Homo sapiens: one gene and its partner. The protein of the gene in region 2 binds, or shares a complex with, the protein of the main gene of each other region. Each region holds a gene or a part of one and is shown on either strand. Other genes may lie near its edges. A codon is read from its position in the direction of its gene.

Region 1 (9,543 bases), on a different chromosome or scaffold from region 2:
TCCTTTCGGGGAAATGACAGGATTTTGGAAGTAGGTAGGGGTTTACAGTGTACATTGTACACTGTAAATGTACTAAATACCAATGAATTGTATACTTTAAAATGGTTAATTTTATGTTATGTGAATTCTACCTCAATTTTATTATTTTATTTTTTAAATTTAAATGATTAATTTAAATTTAAAATTTTCATTTATTAAATATTTTGAAGACAGCGTCTCTCCCACTCTGTTGCCCAGGCTGGAGTGTAGTCACGTGACCATGGCTCACTGCCACCTTGAACTCCTGGGTCAGGCCATCCTCCCAGTCTCCCAAGTGCTGGGACTACAGGTGCACACCACAGTGCCTGGCTACTTTTTAATTATTTTTTTTAATAGAGATGGGGTCTTACTATGTTGCCTAGGCTGGTCTCAAGCGATCATCTGGCCTAGGGTTCCCAAAGTGCTGGGATTACAGGTGTGAGCCACTGCACCCAGACCCTGAGAACCTGCTATGCTGGTATGTTCTATAAAAATAAAGGCAAAGCCACTAAAAATTATTAGATATAGATAGATAGATAGATAGTAGGGCAGAAAATTACTTGCTGACTCATAAGAAATCTGACTTTCAGGCTTTATAGAGCTTTCTGGTCTGCTTACGGTAGAACCACTGCTCAGTTTTCTGTCTTTCTGTTTAGGTTTACTAGCAATATCTCTTGTAACATCTGATTAATTAGTGTATTCATGAGCAGGGATCTTTTCAGAGCCTGCCTTATCATCTGTTAGCGAAAGTAAATGAGAGAATACCACAGTCCGTGCATAAATGCTCACTAAATACCTCCCTGTGCTGGGCCTGAGCTACCAAGGCGATAGGGCACAGACTTTGCTTCTATATTTTGATGAATTATCAAAAATAGGTAAATCCATACTGTACTAGGGAGCACAGTGGGGTTACTTCTCTACTGTAAGAGGTGCTGGGAGTCTAGATGGCTTCCTTTCTATAGGGGGTGTTAGAGAAAGCCTGCACTTCGGAGAGACAGGCCTGTGGTCAACTCCCAATTCCACCTCTTTTTTTTTTTGAGAGAGAGTCTCACTCTGTTGCTCAGACTGGAGTGCAGTGGCACAATCTCAGTTCCCTGCAACCTCTGCCTTCCAGGTTCAGGCAATTCTGGTGCCTCAGCCTCCCAAGTAGCTGTGACTACAGGTGTGCACCACCATACCCAGCTAATTTTGTATTTTTAGTAGAGACAGGGTTTCACCATGTTGGTCAGGCTGGTCTCAAACTCCTGGCCTCAAGTGATCCCCCTGCTTTGGCCTCCCAAAGTGCTGGGATTACAGGCATGAGCCACCGCACCCAGTCCCAATTCCACCTCTTTCTCAACTTGTGACTTAACCATTCTGGGTCTCTGTTTTATAACCAGTAAAATGAGGATGACATCTACTCAAAGGGCTGTTGTGAGAAATAAATAAGATAGTATTGTAACGTCCCTAAGAAGGATGTCAGCTGTAGTCAGTACTCCACAGAGGGTAGCTGTTTTTAATTAAACATGAACGTGGCGGGTATGGGATATGGGGAGGGCATTCTGGCCAGAGGGAGTGGCATGCGGACAGAAGCCAGAGAAAGCATAGCTCCTTGAAGGGAGGATCTAGAGGATGGGGCTGGGTGAACTGGAGGGTGAGTAATAGGAGATGGCTGGAGAGGGGCTGGGGACCCTCCTGCAAGGGGAGGAGCACTTCATTCCATGCCAGAGAATTGGGCTTGACTCTGTGAGTAGGAGGGTAGCAAGTGGAATTGCCCACCAAGTTCTCTCTGTCATAGTCACCACCAGCTATTCTTGAACACTTTAACCCTCTAGAGCCCCATAAAATTTATAAACATCACCTTTTACTCTTGGATGTTGGCCCTTTTAATGATCACATATCATCTCACTTAAATTGTCTAGACGAATGTAAACTGGTTGATGAATTTACACATTTCTCAACAACTATCTGCTGAGTGAACATTTGTTTTAGTCACCATGGGGATAAATAAAACTTTATAATCTTAGTTGGGAGAATGAGACACACACACAAAGTGACAAGGCAGGAAATGCCAAAATGAGTGGGAACAAAAAGTCGGGAAGTGCTGGAGGAAGGCTCAGCTTGGTGGTCAGGGCCAGCCCTGGGAGGGCTTCACCGCCCCTCTTGGCACACAGAGCTGGTAATCCTGGACAATAAACTCTATCACAGCGGTGGCGGTTCAAGGATGGGAGGCACTGTTGGATGCCTCAGAGTCCCAGCACCACTACCTTATGACAGACAATGCTTAGAATTGTCAATGCATGGTGGTAATAGAAAGTAAACCTATCTTGGGTTGATTTTATTAGTGATTTTAAATTTTCTAAAGACAAAGCCCCACTTATTCCTAATTGCTTGCACCCAGGGTGGGTGGACTGCCCCTTCCCTGCCCCACCCGCCACCACTTGCTTAGCCGCTGTCTCTGGGTCTTAGTTGCAGAATCAGCAAAAGGGGATAAATACCCACCTTAACAAGGTGTTTTGACAAGGTGAAATGAGACAATCCAAGTGAAAATTCCTTCTGGCCCAGGGCTTGACATGGAATATGGCACTTAGCAAGCGCTCCTTTTCCTCTATCATACTCCTTTCTTCTTTCCCTCCCAAAGTGGTTCCAGAATCCAGTGTTGATAAACTAGCCAAGTTCATCCACCTGCCTTTCTGTCTACACCAGCACTGTCCATATTAACATGCACCACTCCTGCCATGAGGATGTAAGAAGCTTGGCAGAAACCAGTACGCTTTGACTTCACTCCCTAATGAGGCTACACACCTTGCTGGGAGGCCACTGTGAGAAAGGGTGCAGCATTTCTATAAGCTCTGTTCTCCACCCCATGATCCAAATCTCAAACAAAACACTGGATTCTCAAGAGCGTGTCCTCAAACTACATTGTGCAAATTACATAATGGTATGTGAAATCATATCTCATCGCAAACAATTTTTCAGGAGTTCTCGGTGTTCTCTCAAACACTTTCGGCAACAATGCTCACTTATCTGCAGGCAGGCTAGTTACTGCTAAACACTGGGCCCCAGTCTGGAGCTCTTAGTTTTCCCAAAAGCATCTCAAAACTCACCCTGAACAAAGACAGAGAGGCGAGAACATGCTATGTCTTTGTCACCTCTTAATCTTGATGTGTCTACACTTTTTTTTGAGTGTGGGAGCAATATAGAGTGCACATTCTTTTAGCGATAACAAGAAAACCCGCTAGAACTTCTTTCAGCGTAAAAAAAATGGCTCAAAGCTTATAAAATACTATTGTTATTAGGAAATTCAAAAACACTTTTCTCACTTTCTAATTAGCGCCTTTACAGGCTAAAAACAACTCATCTGTGCTGCTCTTGGGGAAAGGGATACAGAAAATATTTGACCAAATAAATTAATCAAATTTATTTATTTGGTCAAGTGGCCAGATACTTAAAAATAGACTACTAGTGGGGAAAATATTCTAGGGGAGCAACCTTCTTGCAGTGGATCAGAAATCTCGTTAAGAAATACTGGGATCCCACAGTGTTCGAGGGAGCCCGGTCCTGGGGAGGGATCTCTCTCTTCAACTCACTTAGAAGGAATGGGTTCTAGGTAACAACAAAATCCTCTCCATGTCCCCTCCCCCGCCACCACGCGGAGCCTCTGCTATTGTCACCATATATCTCGCACCCTGCGCACCTCCTGGACACAAGGCCGGGCCGGGGGCTGCTGGTACTGATTCTCTGCTAAACATGCCAAGGGACTGCCTGGGCTTTTCTCTACATCACTTTTCTCGCCTGTAAAATGTGCAAGAAAAAAACTTCCAACAAAGCAAAACTTCAGCGGCAGCGGTTCGCCACTTTATATTTTAAAGATCGAAACGTTTATTGGTGGAGCAACGTGAGAGCTTTTCTTTTTGGGGGTGGTCCTGGGAGAAACACAATGACAAGTGCAACGCAGGACTGCAGGCTCCCCCAGGGGGCTTCCGCTCCATCCTCCTCCATATCCAACACCCCGTGGCAGGCGGGCTGCACCCTCCAAGATCGAGTCCAAAGGGGCATCGGCTGGGCCCGCGAAGGGGGTGGCACGCCCCACCTAAACGTGACTGGAAAAAACTCCAGATCTCAGCCCAAATGCCAGTTTGGCTTTCGGAGGAAACTGAGGCAGGGGTGAGGAGAAGGCGCAACAGTGACCCCCGCAGTCTCCCCTCGGCGTCCCTCCGCCCGCGCACCCCATTCCCGTGCATCTCTCACCTGGCCTGCGGGCCCGGGTGCGGGCAGACAACAGCGGGCCGCACAGACTGAAGCAGGCGGCCACCAGCAGCAGCCGCCGCGGCCCCATTGTCCCGGGCTCTGCGCGGCGCTGCTCCGGGAGGCTGCCCCGCCTCGGGCTGCTCCGCTTCACCCTCTCTCCTGACTTCTGCGGGTCGGGGAGCCGGTCTTCGCGGCAGGCAGAGCGCAGGGTGCCCACGGGTAAGATCAGGGTCCAAGCGACCCTCGGCGAGCGCTGTGTCTGGGGCGGTTAGCGGGGCGGGGCGGGACTGGGGCGCGCGGTCGCGCGGGCGCGAGCGAGGAAGGGCGCCCTCCGGCGTGCAGTGAGAGTCTCTGCGCTGGAGCCGCTCGGCGCCCCCTCCCCGCGGTCCCTCAGCCGCCGCTCGCAAGCCCCTCTGGCTCTGTGCGCCCCGCCCCGCCCCGCCCTGCCCTACTGGGGGGCCCTGGCCGCCGGCCACTGCCGGGCCTAGAAGTCCAAATGAGAAGTTTTTTCCTCTGGGCACCGTTGATTCGCGAAGCTGTCAGTGACTCACACTGGCGGGGTCCTTGGAATGGGGCCGCACGGCTCGCAGGCTGCTTCCCGCGGCCGTCTCGACCCTCCTGGGATGTGGAGACGTCGACAGTGGACGCCCCGGCCAGGATGCGTCCACGCCCTGCAGCCCCGCAGCCCTGGCGTGGCCTCCCGTCCTCCCTCCCTCCGTGTGGGACACCGGCAAAGTTCAGTTTTCGCTAAAAGTCTAAAAGGGACTTCTGCTTTTGTAACGTGGGGATCACGGATTTAAAAGTTTATGATGTAGTGACAGGGTTGCCCCTAAATGAGAAAGGGCCCTTGAGTCTGGACAGAATTCTTGAACTTTTATACGTCTCTCTTTATTTCGCGAAGTTAGGCGTTTCATACGCCGGGCACTCGTTTCCCCCACACGCAGACTGCGAGTGGAATAGGAAGAGCGGCTTCTCCCGCTTCCCCCCCGCGCGGCCTCGCGGAGCTCTTCCCTTTCCCGCGCCGCCCGCCGGGGTCACCTGCGCATCTGGGAGGAGGGCGCGCGTCTGCCGGTGAGGCCGGCGTTCTAGGGCCGCGGGCGCCCAGGAGAGAAATGGCCTGGTAACTTTCCAAGTGTCCTTCACACGTTCTTGAACGATATTACAGTTTGTTTTGTTTTTGAGGCAGGGTCTTGCCCTGTCGCCCAGGCTGGAGTGCAGTGGCGCCAACACGGCTCACTGCAGCCTCGATCTCCCTGGCTCAGGCCACCCTTTCGCCCCAGCCTCCGGATTACCTGGGACCACAGAAAGGCGCGCGCCACCATGTCCGGCTAATTTCACTGCTGGCCTCAAGCGATCCTCCTGCCTCAGCCTCCTAAAGTGCGGGGATTACAGGCGTGAATCACCGCGCCAGGCCTGATATTAAAGGAGTTTGGCTAAATTCAAGGCACAGGGCGGGGACACTCGCTTGGCAGTCTGCTAAGGGCCCCCAGGGGCGTCGCGGCTGGGGGTGGGCAGGAGGAGCCTGCAGCTTAAGTTGCTTTGCCACTGGCTCTGGTGCGTGCGCCTTTCAGACTCCAACAGGAAATGGGTCCCCAAATAGCTGTTTCTAGGAAAGCTCAGCCGCAGCCCCTTCTCCTCTTAACCCAGCGCACTGATGTGCGGGCATATTCGGAGTTCTGTGGTTGATAAGCTGCAGCTGAGAGCCGGTGGTCAGTTTTCTAAGCCTTTTTTAAAAGTGAATTTCGCACGAAGAGTATCATTCCCCCACTAGAGCCCGGACACTTACATCCGTGGAGAAAGTACGATCAGAGGCGATTTCGTTCTTCCCTGTATTCTCCCATCATCCTCAAAGGACAGTACCTTGTTGTACACAGAAGTTGATCACTAAATTGCGGAAGTACCCAGTTAAATAAAGCTTTTTAAAATCTATCCCCGTTCAGTTATCCTCTGGAAACATACCCAAGAGTAAATGTGAACAGTTAAAATTACATAGTTCTTCATTCACTATTAAACTATTTTTCATTATTCCTAAGACGTCATTGATTTTACAATTTATCATTTTAACCCATTACCACAAGCCAGAAAAAAATGTGACATACCAATGATTGTAAGAAACACTCCAATTTCAGGGTTATGAAGAAAAGGCATTTTAGAATCAATGAAACACAGTGGAAAATATAAACACATATGACAAAATTTCTGATAGTTGAAGGATATGAAATGAAAAATAAATTACCTTCTGCCTCCCCTCCCCTAGTTGCCATCTGACCACTAAGTTTCCCCTCCTTCCTTCCTTCCTTCCTTCCTTCCTTCCTTCCTTCCTTCCTCCCTCCCTCTCTTCCTTCCTTCCTTCCTCTCTTCCTTCCTTCCTCTCTCTCTCTCTCTGTCTTTCTTATTTTCTTTCTTTCTTTTTTTTCCTGAGGCGGAGTTTCACTCTTGTTGCCCAGGCTGGAGTGCAATGGCGCGGACTCGGCTCACAGCAACCTCCGTCTCCTGGGTTCAAGCGATTCTCCTGCCTCAGCCTCCCGAGTACTTGGGATTACAGGCGCCTACCACCGCGCCTGGCTAATTTTTTGTATTTTTAGTAGAGACTGGGTTTCACCATATTGGCCAGGTTGGCCTCAAACTCCTGAACTCAGGTGATCCACCCGCCTTAGCCTCCCAAAGTGCTGGGATTACAGGCATGAGCCACCGCATCCAGCTACCTGACCACTAAGTTTCTGTTCACCATTCAAAAAATCATATCCACATACAAATTGCATATATGTATATCCTTAAAATAAGAATGGAATAATACCACCACATTTTAAAATTTTATCTGTGTCATTGGTGGAAAATGTTATTTTTAACCATTTTACAAAACGATAAAGCTTAAAAGGATGCTTTGGGGTCTTAGTTGTTAGAACAAAATGTACCTCTAGTGACAAAAAGACGTACAATGAAGGCTGGGTGCAGTGGCTCACACCTGTAATCCCAGCACTTTGAGAAACTGAGGCGGTCAAATCACTTGAGGTCAGGAGTTAGAGACCAGCCTGGCCAGCATAGAGAAACTCCGTCTCTACTAAAAATACAAAAATTAGCCGGGCTTGGTGGTGTGCACCTGTAATCCCAGTTACTTGGGAGGCTGACGCAGGAGAATCACTTGAACCTGGGAGGCAGAGTTTGCTGTGAGCCAAAATTGCACCACTGCACTCCAGTCTGGGCAACAGAGCAAGACTCTGTCTCAAAAAAACAAAAACAAAAGCAAAAAAAAAAAAAAAAACAAAAATAATGAAATGCTTAAATGCTTTGTGCATATTGACTAAAGGATTCCTTCTAGGAATATTTCTGCCAGTTGTATTTTTTGAGGCTTGTTTGGTACATGTTTATCTAATTCTTTTTAAATAGTATACTATTCCCTTGTATACATATAATAAATTTTAGTCTTCTAAAACTATTTTATCTGTAGTGTTGTCCCCATTTATATTCCTAACATAGCTAATTTTTTGCTTTTTTCCCTTTATCTGACCAGAGGTCAGAAATGACTATTTTCTAATGCCCGTCTTTTTGCTCCGTTACTTTTATTTTTATTTATAAACACAGATTTTTAATTCATTCTTTTCCTCTACTTTCTTTGAGTTTACTCTTTAGCATAATTTTTTTTTTTTTTTTTTTTGAGACGGAGTCTCGCTGTATCGCCCAGGCTGGAGTGCAGTGGCGCGATCTCGGCTCACTGCAACCTCCGCCTCCTGGGTTTACGCCATTCTACTGCCTCAGCCTCCTGAGTAGCTGGGACTACAGGCGCCTGCCACCACGCCCGGCTAATTTTTCTGTATTTTTAGTAGAGACGGGGTTTCACCGTGTTAGCCAGGTTGGTCTCGATCTCCTGACCTCATGATCCGCCCGCCATGGCCTCCCGAAGTGCTGGGATTACAGGCGTGAGCCACCGCGCCCGGCCTCTTTAGTATAATTTTTTGAACTGATTATTTTTTACCTCTTCTCCTTCAAAAGACCACATCAGCTACATTTTGCAAGTTTTGATATGTGCATATATAAAATTCAGGTCTAAATATTTTGTCAATTTCATTCAATCTTCAACCATAAATTCTTGGATATTTTGACTGGCTTTTTGTGACTGATTTCTAATTTTATGGTCTGTTAGTGATGTTGTTTTTTGTTTTGTCCTTAGACTTCACAAAGTTCCTATGTTTATGTGCTCTTAAGAGCTTTTTTTTTTTTTTTTTTGAGACGGAGTTTTGCACTTGTTGCCCAGGCTGGAGTGCAACGGCCGGATCTTGGCTCACCACAACCTCCGCCTCCTGGGTTGGAGCGATTCTCCTGCCTCAGCCTCCCAAGTAGCTGGGATTCAGGCATGTGCCACCATGCCCGGCTAATTTTTGTATTTTTTTTAGTAGAGACTGGGTTTCTCCATGTTGGTCAGGCTGATCTCGAACTCCCGACTGCCGAGACCAGCTCGGTGGTGGAGACCCTAACCTAGCGGTGCTAGAGGAATTAAAGACACACACACAGAAATATAGATTGTGGAGTGGGAAATCAGGGATCTCACAGCCTTCAGAGCTGAGAGCCTCGAACAGAGATTTACCCACATATTTATTGACAGCAAGCCAGTCATAACATTTACTAAAAGTATTACTTATGGGAAATAAAGGGATGGGCCAAAACAAAGGGATGGCTCTTGCTAGTTATCTGCAGCAGGAACATGTCCAGGCACAGATCACTCATGCTACTGTTTGTGGTTTAAGAATGCCTTAAGCGGTTTTCTGCCCTGGGTGGGCCAGGTGTTCCTTGCGCTCATTCCAGTAAACCCACAGCCTTCCAGCGTGAGCGTCATGGCCATCACGAACATGTCACAGTGCTGCAGAGATTTTGTTTATGGCCAGTTTTTGGGCCAGTTTATGGCCAGATTTGGCGCCCTGTTCCTAAAACCCGACCTCAGGTGATCTGCCCGCCTTGGCCTCCCAAAGTGCTGGGATTACAGGCGTGAGCCACCGTACCCGGCCTCTTAAGAGCTTTTTGAAGAAGATAACCCACTACTTCATTTGTTCCACGCCACTCCTACCAAAACCCCTTTGTCAGTTTTAAAGCAAACATCTGTAGGTTTCTGAGAGTAGAAAATCTACTTAACCAGAGATGATAAACATGTTGAAAATCTGCCTAACCAGAGTTGCTAAAAATATTTCTTGGAAATGAAATCTTGACTTTGCAGCATCATTCATATTGGAACCACTTGATATTAGTTTCCGGTTTTCATTTTCTCTGTTTTAACTTGCCTGGTACCAAATAGTATGAGTCATT
Region 2 (9,658 bases):
GGAGAACCTGGACCGGGACATTGCCCTGATGAAGCTGAAGAAGCCTGTTGCCTTCAGTGACTACATTCACCCTGTGTGTCTGCCCGACAGGGAGACGGCAGCCAGGTGGGCCACCAGATGCTTGTTAGCTGAGGGGCAGAAGCCAAGTTCTGGGCCTGGCTCTGATACCAAGTAGCCTTGCAAGAGCCCCTTTCCCTTTTCCAGGCCTCGGTTTCTTGGAGTGAACCCAAAAGTTCTTTTCAGTACTGGCGTTTTATTTTTTATTTATATTTATTTATTTACTGACGGAGTTCCACTCTTGTCTCCCAGGCTGGAGTGTAGTTGTGCGATCTTGGCTCACTGCAACCCCACCTCCTGGGTTCAAGCGACTCTCCTGCCTCAGTCTCCTGAGTAGCTGGGATTACAGGCTAATTTTTGTATTTTTAGTAGAGACTGGTGGGTTTCACCGTGTCGGCCAGGTTGGTCTCGAACCCCTGACCTCAAGTGATTCACCCGCCTCGGCCTCCCAAAGTGCCGAGACCACAGGCGTGAACGTCTGTGCCCAGCCAGCTCTGGCGTTTTAGATTCTGGTCTCTAAGAAATGGCGTTGGGGCCAGGCGGCTCCTGTGGGGGTTGGCTCTCACTAGGCCCTTCTTCCTTCCCCAAAGCTTGCTCCAGGCTGGATACAAGGGGCGGGTGACAGGCTGGGGCAACCTGAAGGAGACGTGGACAGCCAACGTTGGTAAGGGGCAGCCCAGTGTCCTGCAGGTGGTGAACCTGCCCATTGTGGAGCGGCCGGTCTGCAAGGACTCCACCCGGATCCGCATCACTGACAACATGTTCTGTGCTGGCAAGTCTGTGCAGGGCGGGCTGAGGGAACAGTGGGGCCCAAGCTGGGAGAACTGAGTTGTGCCTGGGTTCAAGCCATGTGACTTTGAGCAAGTTGCCTAACCTCTTGGTGGCTCAGTTTCTTCCTCTGTAAAATGGAGGTAAAAGTCTCTATCCCATAAGGTTATGGGAGGGTTAAATGAAGTAGTATATATTAATGTACTTGGCATAGTATCAGTCACCAGTGAGCTCAGATAGCAGCAAGAGGCTGCGGGTAGGGAAATGCCATTCATTCAGTCACTCAGCAAATATTTATTGAGCGCCTATCACGTTCCAGGCAGCGTTCTAGGGTATACAGCAGGGACCCAGACGGACAATGTCTGTGCCCTCAGAGAGCTTCCTTCCTAGGAGGGCACATCCATAAACAGATCTAAAACAGCAATCCCTGACCAGTGCTGTGAAGAAAAATGAAGCACAGGGAGAGAGAACGGCTGATGAAGTGGGCTTCTAAATAGGGTGGCCAGACAAGGTGGGCAGATCACTTGAGGTCAGGAGTTCAAGACCAGCCTGGCCAACATGGTGAAACCCCGTCTCTACTAAAAATACAAAAATTAGCTGGTCATGGTGACGCATGCCTGTAGTCGCAGCTACTCAGGAGGCTGAGGCAGGAGAATTGCTTGAGCCAGGGAGGCGGAGGTTGCAGTGAGCTGAGATCGGGCATCATTGCACTCCAGCTGGGCAACACAGCAAGACTCCATTGATCGATCGATCAATCAATCAATCAGGTGGCCAGAGAAGGTTGGAGAAGGCCTCCCTGAGAAGGTGATGTCTGGGCAGGGACTGGAAGAGGGGAAGGAAGGAGTGAGCAGGCATATCTAGGGGAGGAGCACCGCAGGCTGGGGGCATGGCAGGCACTAAGGCCCTGAGGTGGGAGCACTCTTGGCTTGTCTGGGGAGCAGTAGGGAGGCCTGGGGGGCTGAGGAGGGGCAGCAGTGGGTGAGGGGAGAGAGGGGGGCAGGCAGAGGACAGCCACTTCCTTTAGGGCCTGGAAGGACTTTATTGAGTGAGATGGGAAGTTATTGAGGGGCTTGAGGCAGGTTAAGAAATGATGTGACTGACTTTAAAAGTAAAAAATAAAAAAATTTAGTGTAATTTCAGACTCACAGAAAAGTTGTAAAAATAATACAAAGATTTCCTGTATACTGTCATCCAGATTGTCCTCCATTCTGTGGATGTGTGGGAATTTTTATATATATATATGCATAGTTTGAGAGCAAATCATGAATATGGTTTCTTTTTACCCATAAATACTTGAGTATTTCCAAAAAAAAAAAAAATACCCAAGGATGTTCTCTTATGCAACCACAATACAAATATTAAAACCCGGAAATTTTTTTTTGACATAGCTTCGCTGTCACCCAGGCTTGAGTGCAGTGGCACAATCTCGGCTCACTGCAACCTCCTGCTCCCAGGTTCAAGTGATTCTCCTGCCTCAGCCTCCTGAGTAGCTGGAATCACAGGCATGTACTACCATGCCTAGCTAATTTTTGTATTTGTAGTAGAGACAGGGTTTCACCATGTTGGCCAGGCTGGTCTTGAACTCCTGACCTCAGGTGATCCACCTGCCTCGGCCTCCCAAAGTGCTGGGATTACAGGCGTGAACCACTGTACTCGGCCAAAACCAGGAAATTTTTTTTTTTTTTTGAGATGGAATCTTGCTCTGTTGCCCAGGCTAGAGTGCAGTGGCATGGTCTCGGCTTACTTGGAATTACAGGTGCCTGCCACCACGCCCGGCTAACTTTTTGTATTTTTAGTATTTTTAGTAGTGATGGGGTTTCACCATGTTGGCCAGGCTGGTCTTGAACTCCTGACCTCGGGTAATCCACCCACCTCGGCTTCCCAAAGTGCTGGGATTACAGGCGTGAGCCACAGCACCTGGCCCAAAACCAGGAAATTAATGATGATACAATATTATTGTCTAATCTATAGACCTTATTCAAATTTTTGTTAGTCTTGCTAATGTCTTTTATAGGGAAAAAAAAAAAAAAAAGCGTGTTTCTCACCCAGGATTCAATGAAGGATCTTTCTTTGTCTTCTATGACCTTGACATGTCTGATGAGTGCAGTCTGGTTATTTTGTACACTGGCCCTGAATCCGGGTTTGTCTAAGGTTTCCTCACGGTCAGGTTCGGGCTCAGTGGTGCCATGTCCTTCTTGGTGCATCCTGTTAACTGGCACATGAGAACAATTTGTCTCATATGTGGTGAGTCTAACTCTGACCTCTTGAGGAAGGCAATGTCTGCCAAGTTTCTTGCTGTAACTTCTGTTTTTCCCTTTGTAATTAATAAGAATCTGGTAAAGAGACACTTTGATGTTTTTTTTTTTTTTTTTTTTTTGTGATGGAGTCTCCCTCTATCACCCGGGCTGGAGTGTGTGGTGCGATCTCGGCTCACTGCAACCTCCATCCCCCAGGTTCAAGTGATTCTCCTGCCTCAGCCTCCCAAGTAGCAGGGATTACAGGCATGTGCCACCACACCCAGCTAATTTTTGTATTTTTAGTAGAGATGGGGTTTCACCATGTTGGCCAGGATGGTCTCGAACTCCTGACCTTGTGATCCGTCTGCCTCAGCCTCCCAAAGTGCTGGGATTACAGGTGTGAGCCAATACGCCTGGCCTACTTTGATATTTTGTATTCTGTTTGCATCAAAACCTTCTCCCAACTAGGGTGACTACCAAATGGCACTTATCTAATTCTGTCATTCCTTCTACATTTGTTAGTTACTTTATTGCTTTCCTTCCTTTCATTCTATCAGTGTGGACTTAAGGATCCTTACTTTATTCTAAGGGTTCACCTTTTTTTTTCTTTTTTTTTGAGATGGAGTTTCGCCCATGTTGCCCAGGCTGGATGGAGTGCAATGGCGTGATCTCGGCTCACTGCAACGTCCTCCTCCCAGGTTCAAGCAATTCTCCTGCCTCAGCCTCCTGAGTAGCTGGGATTACAGGCATGTGCCACCACGCCTGGCTAATTTTTTGTATTTTTAGTAGAGACAGGGTTTCACCATGTTGGCCAGGCTGGTCTCGAACTCCTGACCTCAGGTGATCCGCCCGCCTCAGCCTTCCAAGGTTCTGGGATTATAGGCGTGAGCTCTACCGTGCCAGGCCATACTTTGTTACTACTGTTATTTTTTCTGATGCTCAGATGATCCCAAGTTTGGCCTGTGGAAGTCCCTTCAAGCTGGCTTCTGTGACTTGGGGAGATGTTCTGTCATTCTTTGAGTACTTTCTTTCTTTCTGGCACAGCAAAATGATTCAGGTTAATCCTACTTTCCTTACTGTAGTGTTGGAACCAGCCATTTCTCCAGGGAACCCTTGTAGTCAAGAGTGGAATTTAGAACTGAGATCTGGGTGCTGGCGTGTGCACATTGCTAGTGGGATGTCATTACTTCTAGGCTCTCTTAGTGGACAGAACCAGAAAAAAATTATATGATGCATATACCAATATCTCTATCATCTATATAAAAAACCATGAGTTCCTACTGAAACCTCCAATTCCATTCTAACACCACAGGATTAATTTTAGCTTTTCCTTTTCCATATTTGTAACTCTCTCTGTTGACAGTGAGAAACCTGACCCTCATTATCTGTAATGCATTTGCCTATTTGAACAATACTAGAATATAGTTTCAAAATCCTCCATCCATAACACTATTAAAACCAATCCTATGGCTGGGCTCAGCCCACTGCAACCTCTGCCTCCTGGACTCAAGCCAGCCTCCCACTTTAGCCTCCCGAGTAGCCAGGGCTACAGGCACACACCACCATGCCCAGCTAATTTTTGTATTTTTTGTAGAGACTGGGTCTCACTGTGTTGCCCAGACAGGTCTTGAACTCTGAGCTCAAGTGATCCATCCAACTCAGCCTCCCAAAGTGCTAGGATTACAGGTGTGAGCCACCATGCCTGGCCTCTCCTAGTAAATTTTTAGAAGTGGTGTTGTTAGGTCAAAAGGCAAACATGTATGTCATTTTTTAGAGATTTTTAAATTTCTTTCCATAAGGGTTGTACCAGTTTGCATTTCCATCACAGTGTATGAGAATGCCTGTTTCCCCACAACCTTGCCAAAAGAATGTCACAGTTTTAAATTTTTACCAATCTGAGAGGTGAGAAATAGTATCTTGAAATTGTTTTAACGGACATCTTTCAAATTGAAAATGAGGTTGAACATCGTATCATATGATTAAGGACCTTTTTTTTTTTTTTTTTTTTTTTTGAGATGGAGTCTCCCTCTGTCACCTAGGCTGGAGTGCAATGGCACGATTTTGGCTCACTGCAACTTCCGCCTTCTGGGTTCAAGCGATTCTCCTGCTTCAGCCTCCCAAGCAGCTGGGACTCCAGGCGCGAGTCACCATGCCCGCTAATTTTTGTATTTTTAGTAGAGACAGGGTTTTACCAGATTGGCCAGGCTGGTCTCGAACTCCTTACCTTGTGATCCTCCCGCCTCGGCCTCCCAAAGTGCTGAGATTACAGGCATGAGCCACCACGCCTGGCCTAAGGACCATTTTTATATAATTTTTTTTTTGAGACAGAGTCTTGCTTTGTCACCCAGGCTGGAGTGCAATGGTGCAATCTTGGCTCACTGCAGCCTCCACTTCCCTGGTTCAAGTGATTCTCCTGCCTCAGCCTCCCGAGTAGCTGGTTCCACAGGTGCGTGCCTGGCTAGTATTTGTATTATATAATTTTTTTGTGAATTGTCTCTTCATGGTTTTTTGCCCATTTTTTGGTCCCTTTCTTATCAATTTTTGTGAGTTCTTCGTATTTATATTAGGCCTTTATTTGTGATATACATTGCAAATGTTTTCTCCTAGTTTGTCAGTTTTTTTAACCTCATGTATAATTTTTCTGGCCATGCAGTTTAAAAAATTACTAGGTAGTCAAATTTATCAATCATTTATTTTATTAAATCTGGATTTTGAATCAGAGATAAACTTTTCCTGGCCAGGTGTGGTGTCTTACACCTGTAATCCCAGCACTCTGAGAGGCTGAGGTGGGGGATCACCTGAGGTCAGAAGTTCAAGACCAGCCTGGCCAACATGGTGAAACCCTGTCTCTACTAAAAATACAAAAATTAGCTGGGCGTGGTGGCTGATGCCTGTAGTCCCAGCTACTCAGGAGACTGAGGCTGGAGAATTGCTTGAACCTGGGAGGCGGAGGTTGCAGTGAGCAGAGATCGTGCCGCTGCACTCCAGCCTGGGTGACAGAGCAAGACTCTGTCTCAAAAACAAAACGACAAAAAACAACAACAGAAAAGCCTTTCCTGATAGCTAGGTCATTGAGGAATTCACTCATGTTTTCTTCTAGTACCTGATTTCATTTTTCTGCACTTAGATTCCTGACTCATATGGAGTTTATTTTTGTATCTGATGTGAGGCATAGATCTAATTTATTATTTTCCAAATGGCTAACTAGCTGTCTCTAAACCCTTTATTAAAAATTATTGGCCAAGTGCGGTAGCTCACACCTGTAATCCCAGCAGTTTGGAAGGCTGAGGCAGGATTGCTTGAGGCCAGGAATTCAAAACCAGCCCAGACAACATAGCAAGACCCTGTCTCTACAAGAAAATATTGGTCAGGTGTGGTGGCTCACGCCTATAATCCCAGCACTTTGGGAGGCTGAGGCAGGTGGATCATGAGGTCAGGAGATAGAGACCATCCTGGCCAACATGGTGAAACCCTCGTCTCTACTAAAATACAAAAAATTAGCTGGGTGTGGTGGCGCATGCCTGTAGTACCAGCTACTCAGGAGGCTGAGGCAGGGGAATCATTTGAACCCAGGAGGTGGAGGTTGCAGTGAGCTGAGATCACGCCATTGAACTCCAGCCTGGCGACAGAGCAAGACTCCATCTCAAAAAAAAAAGGAAAAAGAAAATATTTTAAAAATTAGCTGGGCATGGTGGCATGTGCCTTGTAGTCTCAGCTACTTGAGAGGCTGAGTTAGGAGGATTGCTTGAGCCTAGGAGTTCAATACTGCAGTGAGCTATGACCGCACCATTGCACTCCAGCCTGGGCAACAGAGTGAGACCCTGTTTCTATTAAAAAAAAAAAATCGGCTGGGCGCGGTGGCTCACGCCTGTAATCCTAGCACTTTGGGAGGCCGAGGCGAGCGGATCACCTGAGGTCAGGAGTTCAAGACCAGCCTGACCAACATGGAAAAACCCTGTCTCTGCTAAAAATACAAAATTAGCCAGACATGGAGGCACATGTCTGTAATCCCAGCTACTCGGGAGGCTGAGGCAGGAGAATCGCTTGAACCTGGGAGACGGAGGTTGCAGTGAGCTGAGATCCCTCCATTGCACTCCAGCCTGGGCAACAAGAGTAAAAACTCCGTTTCGCCAGGTGCGGTGGCTCACACCTGTAATCCCAGCACTTTGGGAGGCCGAGGTGGGTGGATCACAAGGTCAGGAGTTTGAGACAAGCCTGGCCGACATGGTGAAACCCCATCTCTACTAAAATACAAAAAATTAGCCTGGCATGGTGGTGTGCGCCTGTAATCCCAGCTACTTGGGAGGCTGAGGCAGGGGAATCACTTGAACCTGGGAGGAGGAGGTTGCAGTGAGCCGAGATGGTGCCACTGCACTCCAGCCTGGCAACAGAGCGAGACTCTATCTCAAAATCAATCAATCAATCAATCAATCTTTGAACTAGTGATTTGAGATTTCACCTTTATCACATTCTAGATTGTATCTTATTTTCATTTATTTATTTGAAATATAGACAAGTCTCCCTGTGCTGCCCAGGCTGATTTCAAACTCCTGGCTGGGCTCGAGCAAGTCTCCCGCCTTGGCCTCCCAAACTGCTGGGATTACAGACGTGAGCCACCATACCTGACCTAGGTTTTATTTTTTAGTTTTATTTTTTCCTGCATCCAGCTAATTTGATTTGATTTGTAGAGACGGGGTCTTGCTATGTTACCTAGGCTGGTCTCGAACTCCTGGGCTCAAGTGATCCTCCTGCCTTGGCCTCCCAAAGTGTTGGGATTACCAGCATGAGCCACGGTGCCCAGCCCCACGTTCTAGATTTCTATGGATAGAGTATGCTTAAGGATGAGTATGTTTCTGGATGTTCGACTCGGCTTTCCTGGTCTGTTGTCTGTCTGTGTACAGCGTCACATTGTTTTAATGATAGAGGCTTTAGCGTACATAGCTGGGAAGGCTAATGTTCTCTTTTAGTTTTTCTTTCCAGTGGTTTCCTGGCAATTCTTGCATGTTTGTTTTTCCATATGAACTTTAGTGTCAACATGCCTAGGTCTATAAAAAAGCTTGGTGGTAATTTTATTGGGATTATGACACTTCAACAAATTAACTGGGAGAATGGACATATTTTTGATGTTGAGTCATTTTATCCAAGGATAAGAAACGTTTTCCTATTTGCTCAAGTCTATTATTGTATCTTTCTTGACTGCTGCAATGTATTCTCTTATAATTTTTTCTATTGGTATCTTATTTTATGTATTTGTAATATCTTATTTTTCTTGAGTAAATTAGTTAATGGCTTGCCGGTTTTCTCAAAACAAATATCTAGGGATTTGATTTATGAAATTATTAGGCCTATTATTTTTCTTTTTTTTGAGATGGAGTCTCACTCTGTCGCCCAGGCTGGAGTGCAGTGGCGTGATCTCAGCTCACTGCAACCTCCACCTCCTGGGTTCAAGTGATTCTCCTGCCTCAGCCTCCCCAGTAGCTGGGGTTACAGGTGCACGCCACCATGCCCGGCTAATTTTTTTATATTTTTAGTAGAGACGGGGTTTCACCATGTTAGCCAGGCTGGTCTCGAACTCCTGACCTCATGATCCGACTGCCTCAGCCTCCCAAAGTGCTGGGATTACAGGTGTGAGCCACCGTGCCTGGCCTTTTTTTTTTTTTTTTTGAGACAGAGTCTTGCTCTGTCACCCAGGCTGGAGTGCAGTGGTGCGATCTCGGCTCACTGAAAGCTCCACCTCCCGGGTTCACGCCATCCTCCTGCCTCAGCCTCCCGAGTAGCTGGGACTACAGGTGTACACTGCCACGCCCAGCTAATTTTTTGTATTTAGTAGAGACAGGGTTTCACCGCGTTCGCCAGGATGGTCTCGATCTCCTGACCTTGTGATCCGCCTGCCTCAGCCTCCCAAAGTGCTGGTATTACGGGCGTGAGCCACTGCGCCCGGCCAGGCCTATTATTTTTCTATTGTGGTTCATTAATTTCTGCTTTTTTCTCTTAAAAAGTTTGCTTACGTTTTTGTCTGGTTTACTTTGCTGTTCTCTTGCTAGCTTTTTTTTTTTTCAGATAGGGTCTTGCTCTGTTGCCCAGGCTGGAGTGCAGTGGCACAGTCATAGCTCACTGCAGCCTTGAACTCCTGGGCTCAAGCAATCCTCTTCTTGCTTCAGCCTCCCACGTAGCTAGGATCAGAGGTACATGCCACCATGTCCGGCTAATTTTTTTTTTTCGAGACAGAGTCTTGTTCTGTCGCTCAGGCGGTAGTGCAGTGGTGCAATCCCGGCTCACTGCAACCTCCACCTCCACCTCCCAGGTTCAAGCAATTCTACCTCAGTCTCCTGAGTAGCTGGGATTATAGGCGCACACCAACATGTCTGGCTAATTTTTGTATTTTTAGTAGAGACAGGGTTTCACCACGTTGGCCAGGCTGGTCTTAAACTCCTGACTTCATGATCCGCCCGCCTTGGCCTCCCAAAGTGCTGAGATTACAGGTGTGAGCCACAGCACCTAGTGAAGGTGTGGTTTTTTTGTGTAGGTTTTACTGTTGTTAGTGTTGTTCTGTATTGTTTGTAGAGGATACGTGGGGAGATTTGGATAAAAGCAAC

The links.
Region 1: the proteins of F2 (region 2) and F2R are in contact, whole or in part, in a crystal structure (PDB 3LU9), measured with the Homo sapiens proteins. Residues at the interface, in NP_000497.1 of Homo sapiens: Phe382, Arg383, Pro386, Gln387, Glu388, Leu389, Leu390, Cys391, His406, Cys407, Tyr410, Trp413, Lys415, Leu423, Arg425, Arg431, Thr432, Arg433, Tyr434, Ile441, Met443, Glu457, Asn458, Leu459, Asn506 (codon at 691), Thr510 (codon at 703), Lys517 (codon at 724), Gly518 (codon at 727), Gln519 (codon at 730), Arg541 (codon at 796); in NP_001983.2 of Homo sapiens: Ala33, Thr34, Asn35, Thr37, Leu38, Asp39, Pro40, Arg41, Ser42, Phe43, Leu44, Leu45, Arg46, Asn47, Pro48, Asp50, Lys51, Tyr52, Glu53, Pro54, Phe55, Trp56.

What each region holds. Positions count from the first base shown.
Region 1 is NC_000005.10:76,711,101-76,720,643, reverse strand, and holds the start of F2R (proteinase-activated receptor 1 isoform 1 precursor), read right to left. Parts: upstream 4,519-9,543; 5' UTR 4,337-4,518; coding exon 4,249-4,336; intron 1-4,248. UniProt on the Homo sapiens protein: High affinity receptor that binds the activated thrombin, leading to calcium release from intracellular stores.
Region 2 is NC_000011.10:46,728,733-46,738,390, forward strand, and holds part of F2 (prothrombin preproprotein), read left to right. Parts: coding exon 1-105; intron 106-647; coding exon 648-829; intron 830-9,658. UniProt on the Homo sapiens protein: Thrombin, which cleaves bonds after Arg and Lys, converts fibrinogen to fibrin and activates factors V, VII, VIII, XIII, and, in complex with thrombomodulin, protein C. Functions in blood homeostasis, inflammation and wound healing.